Regions from separate parts of the Homo sapiens genome. Here region 2 is linked to region 1. Evidence: fine-mapped expression QTL. Tissue or cell type: whole blood. Region 1 holds a variant in brackets; the other region holds the start of a gene. All regions are shown on one strand. Distances are between the middles of the regions.

Evidence for each region. PIP is the estimated chance that this variant, and not a neighbour inherited with it, causes the effect.
Region 2: CYP4F12 starts here. The variant in region 1 is fine-mapped to the expression of CYP4F12 in whole blood (INTERVAL, PIP 0.94).

Annotation. Positions count from the first base shown.
Region 1 is chr19:15,834,000-15,836,683 of GRCh38, reverse strand. LOC124900418 (collagen alpha-1(I) chain-like) reads right to left here. Exons shown (of 3, transcript XM_047439793.1): 3 at 1-1,466. The coding sequence starts at 282. UCA1 (urothelial cancer associated 1) reads right to left here. Exons shown (of 3, transcript NR_015379.3): 3 at 363-2,182. Among named protein-coding and RNA genes, the nearest start is that of UCA1, 6.4 kb to the right of the region's middle. RefSeq lists a silencer at 1-116 and an enhancer at 547-1,746. The variant G/A (reference allele first, on the strand shown) is at 1,094.
Region 2 is chr19:15,672,029-15,674,712 of GRCh38, reverse strand. CYP4F12 (cytochrome P450 family 4 subfamily F member 12) reads right to left here and starts at 1,626. Exons shown (of 13, transcript NM_023944.4): 1 at 1,578-1,626; 2 at 986-1,184. The coding sequence starts at 1,183.

The DNA.
Region 1 (2,684 bases):
CATCTCCCCAGATTGTGCGGGGGCCACGGGAGGATCATGGGGGGATCCCGCCTCCGGCCTGGGGATCCTGTGGGAGGAGCCATGGCCTGTGGGCTCCCCAGTCCCGCCTTTCCCCCCGAAGGCGGCCCCCGCTTCTCCCTGAGTCTTCCAAAAGGTGTGCGAAGCCGGGTCTCCGCGACCCGGTCCCCCAGCCTCGCTCCCCCTTGGGCTGGCCGTAAATCTTGTAATGAACGTTTCCCTCCCCGCATTCTCTAACGCCAGCGTCTCCACTGCAATCCACATGGTTCTCAACTGTTAGTCCCTTTGTTGTACGTTTCAAATCGACGTGGCATTTAAATGATCATCGTTCCACAGAGCAGTGGCTGACTCTTTTAGGAAGATTTCTTTTCTGTCACCTTTTCACATATAAGGAAAGGAAAGGAAAACCACATGAAACGCCTCTGTTTACAAAAGCCTTTGTGCCGCTACTTTTATCTTAGACACCTCATCAGACTGCCTTTGGGTTGAGGTTCCTGTCACGCGTGTCCGTATAGAAGACACCCAATCAGGCTTTGTGTGAGCAACAAGGCTGTTAATTCACTTGGGTGCAAGTGGGCTGAGTCCGAAAAGAGAGTCAGTGAAGGGAGATAGGAGAGGGGCAGCTTTATAGGGCTTGGGTAGGCGTGGAAAGTTACAGTTAAAGGTGGTTATCCTCAGCAGAGGAGGGGGTCACAAGGTGCATGGTGGAGAGATGATGGGACTCATTGTCCAGGAGAAGAATGTCACAGGGTTGATTGATCAGTTGGGGCAGGGCAGGAACAAGTCATAATGGTGGACAAGTCATAATGGTGGAATGTCGTAAGGTGGGTTAATTAGTTAAGGCAGGAACTGGCTGTTTCACTTCTTTGTGGTTTTTCGGCTGCTCCAGACTTCTTGGCTCCTGCAGGCCACCTGGACGGATATGTGCAGGTCACAGGGGTTACAATGGCTAAGCTTCAGCTCACAGGCCTGACATTTTTGTCTTTTTATTTATAAAATATGAAGTTGTAGGAAAAGATTAAAAAAAAGTGTAAGTTCCTTCTGGGGATTACTGGGGTAGGGCTGATATTTCTCC[G/A]GACTGCTTCAAGTGTGACCAGGGACTGCGTGGACACCTTAAAGAAAATTTTATAATGAGTCTAGTAAGTTTCGGGTCTAGGGTGCATTTTTATGTAGCTAACAAGGTGCCAGTTAGCGTATTTTTGAGCTTGGAACTGCCCTAATAAAATAAGTTCTCTAAAAACAGTAATCAGGCATATTAGCTTTAATGTAGGTGGCGATGAGTTTTTAGGCCAAGGAAGGAATAATGTTTTATGTACCAAAGCCTTTTGTCCCCATTTTCCATCATACGAATAGTATTCCCTGTTGCTAAGCCGATGATACATTACCCTTTTCCCATAGGTGTGAGTGGCGGTCTGAATGGAGAAGTTCAATAGTTCTGATTGCAGATCCTATGCAGAAGAGATAATAAGGAAAATAATCTTTGTCTCCTGGATTAAGCTGAGGCTGGCAAAGAGTGAAATGTCCCAAGCCCTCTAACAACAAACAACATACTTTGTGTTGTCCTGGATGCTGGTCTGGTTGCCAAATATGTGGAACTGGCCCCATATGCGTGTACTGTTGTCCATTTCATGAGAGTAGGCTTGAGGACACCATGGGCAAGGATCTGATGGTTGCCAGCCTAAGCGTTTTAGACTTTTGACCCAGAGATTTTTTGTTTTGGGTGTGGAAAAAATTTTAGAGGATAGGGTCTCAAGATATAATCCTTTTTATAGGCGGCAGGTCTTAAGAGATGAGGGTCCAGAGGAACGGATGAAGCCTGCTTGGAAGCATGCTGGGATGGCCATTTGGAAGGAGTGTTGCAAGGAAGCATGGCCTTGGCTGGGCGCTGCCAGGAGCTTAAGGGTTGTAGGTTGTTTGTCTGATCGGCTCTCGGCCTAATCTTGTGGCTTCCAGGAGGAAGAGGAGAGATCAAGCTGGCTGTCTGATGGGCATGGCTTTATTCTGGAATGGTGAACCCAATGGAGAGGGTCCTGCAGATGGACGGCAGTTGGTGTGCTATAAATGACCGGGTAGGGTCTGGTCCATTGAGGCTGTAGAGTTTGAGGGGTCAGACTTTTGACAAGGACTGATCGTCCAGCTAGGGTGTCTTCATATGGCTGGGAATCTGGAGTAGGCAAGAGAAGATTAGCAGCTTGGCAAATTTCCTGTCTAGCCTGCTAGAGGACTGGAAGATAGTTGCCCAGGGGGCTGGTGTCTGGAACAAGATTGTGGCTGAGTAAGAAGGTGCATCCATATAAAATTGAAATGGGTTGTACCCTGTGGCTTCTCAAGGACAGGCCCTAATTCTGAGGAGGGCAAGTGGTAAAAGTACTGTCCAGTCCTTTTTAAGTTGGAGGCTGAGCTTGGTGAGGTGTGTTTTTAAAAGACCATTCATCCGTTCTACCTTTCCTGAAGATTGAGGACGGTAGGGGGTATGAAGTTTCCACTGAATACCAAGAGCCTGAGAAACTGTGGAAGTAGGGAGGCCAAATTGGGGGATTATATCTGTCAGAAGGGAAGAAATGACTGTAGTAGCCTTTCAGAGCTAGTGGGAAAGGCCTCGACCCATCCGGTGAAGGTATTGGCCCAAACCAGGAGATATTTAAATTTACAGACACGCGGCATAT
Region 2 (2,684 bases), 160 kb after region 1:
GGGTAGAGGAATCAGTGAATGAGGAGAGGAATGAGTGAGTGAGGAGAGGAATGAGTGAGTGGGGAGAGCAAAAAGTGAGTGGATAGAGGAATAAGTGAATGGGTAGAGGAATGAGTGAGTGGGCAGAGGAATGAGTGAGTGATGAGGGGAAGGAGTGAATGAGGAGAGGAATGAGTGAGCAGAGGAATGAGTGAGTGAGCAGACGAATAAGAGTGAGGAGAGGAATGAGTGAGTGAGGAGAGGAATGAGTGAATGAGAGGAATGCGCGAATGAGAGGAATGCGCGAGTGAGGAGAGGAATGAGTGAGTGAGGAGAGGAATGAGTGAGTGGGTAGAGGAATGAGTGAGTGAGGAGAGGAATGAGTGAGTGGGTAGAGGAATGAGTGAGTGAGGAGAGGAATGAGTGAGGAGGGGAATGAGTGAGTGAGGAGAGGAATGAGTGAGTGAGGAGGGCAATGTGTGAGTGGGTAGAGGAGTGAGTGAGTGGGTAGAGGATTGAGTGAGTGGGTAGAGGAGTGAGTGAGTGGGTAGAGGAATGAGTGAGTGAGGAGAGGAATGAGTGAGTGAGGAGAGGAATGAGTGAGTGAGGAGAGGAGTGAGTGAGTGAGGAAAGGAGTGAGTGAGTGGGTAGAGGAATGAGTGAGTGAGGAGAGGAATGAGTGAGTGAGGAGAGGAGTGAGTGAGTGGGTAGAGGAGTGAGTGAGTGGGTAGAGGAGTGAGTGGGTAGAGGAATGAGTGAGTGGGTAGAGGAATGAGTGAGTGGGTAGAGGAGTGAGTGAGTGGGTAGAGGAGTGAGTGAGTGGGTAGAGGAGTGAGTGGGTAGAGGAATGAGTGAGTTAGCAGAGGAATGAGTGAGCCATCTCTCTTGCTTCTCTGGGGTCGCAGACCCCAGCCACCATCAATACCTAGCTCACTGAGCCCCATTCCTGCTCCTCTGGAAGTCCATCCACCCTGAGACCCCAGACACATTTTGCTGTCACACTCACCAGGCCCAGGTGACCCCAAAACCAGTTCCGTTTTGGGGGCTGTGGGAAACACTGGAGCCGGCGGCAGTTGTTATAGAAGGCATAGGTCCAAGCCAGGATGCGGGCGAGTAGCCAGGAGCCCACAACCAGCAGCAGGAGTAGCCATGGGGACGTTGCCACCGGTCTGAGGCCCAGCCAGGGCAGGCTCAGCAGCGACATCCTGCAGGGCAGAGGGGATGCAGGGTGAGGACCTGAGGCCCAGGGAAGAGCTCCGGGGACAGTGTATAGGGGCGAAGTCAGGAACTGCTGGGGGCAGGGCAGGGAGGGCTCAGGGGTGAGTAAACGAGGGCTGAGATCTGAAGTCCAGAAAGTCCCAACCAAAACCAACAACTAAGTGGCCTCCAGTAACCTGGTAACCACACAGAAAGGGAAAGAGATGGGCCGATTAGAGTCCAGAAGGGCCCCACCTGAATCCTTGGGAGTTTGCTAGGAGTCCAGTTACCAGGAAACCCCCAGTTTCCCATGCCAGCATCTTGGAGCCACCCCAGCCTTAGGCAGTCCCCTCTTCATCCCAGGCCAGGACCTTCCAGCCCTGCCACCCCCAGCCTGGTACCTTCTGTCGGGAGCAGCTTGTCCCACACAACCTCTTCTCCTCTTCTGCTGGGAGGTCTTTGGCCCTGGCCCCTGATCTAGGGAAGGCCGTAGGAGGCGGGGCTGGGCTGGGCTGGGCTGAGGCAGCCAATCCCCACAGCCTGGGTGTGTCTTCCGTGCCTGGGCAGCCAGCCAAAACCTGGGGTTGGGCCCACTGGGTGCAGCTCAGGGTGCCCCAGCACGAGCACTGAATTCTCAGGTCTCAGTACCTTCTTGGGAGTTTGCAGGGGAAGTTGGAGGGTGGTTAGAGGGGACTCTGAACCCCAAGTTTACCTCCACCCTGCCCTTCCAAGACAAGGGTGTTCAGATAAAAGCATATACTTATCATGACAGTTGGCAGCCAGCTGAGCTGGGCCAGGCCAACCCTTGTCCCAGATCATCTGGGCTCCTCTCCAAACATGGGCGGGGAGGATGTCAGGCACTACATCTTGGTGCAGACTTAGGAGATTCAGAGACAGAAGCCTCTCATCTCTGGCTTCACAGCCTGGCAAGAGTTCAAGTCCTGCCTCCTGGCAGCCCAGGGCCTGAGTTGAGGCCTGACTGCTTGAAGCAGGAAGAAAGAATCCAGCCCCAACCCCGCTGAGGATTACCTTCGTCAGATTCTGGGGATAAAGAGCCCAGCTGGAGGAGCAAACCTAGAAGCTGGGCTCAGCTTAGGAGGACAGAGCGGAGGCACAGGGGATGAGGCTGAGAGGGGCCTTGAGCTGACGGGGTCCAGGCAGGGGAGGGCAGAGCAAGGGGATCCCGAGTGGAGTCCTTGTTCTGCCCTGTCCTTTCTCTGACTGTGGGCAGTGTGGCCATCCTGGGCTCAGGCTTCCCATCTGGGAAATGGGATGTCAGATGAGGCCTTAGAGGGCGACGGAGGAAGGCTCCTAAGAAAAGGGAGCTCCAAAAAGAGGGACTGAAGGGAAGGGGATGACAACTAGCACTTGAGCTGCTGTGTGCCTGTCTCTACTCCATGCGAAAGACTGTACGGAAAGCACTACTGTGTGCACCTACTGTGTGCCAGTTTCACTATATAAAGTGCACTTACTGTGTATCAGATACTGTACATAAATTCTGTCTACTA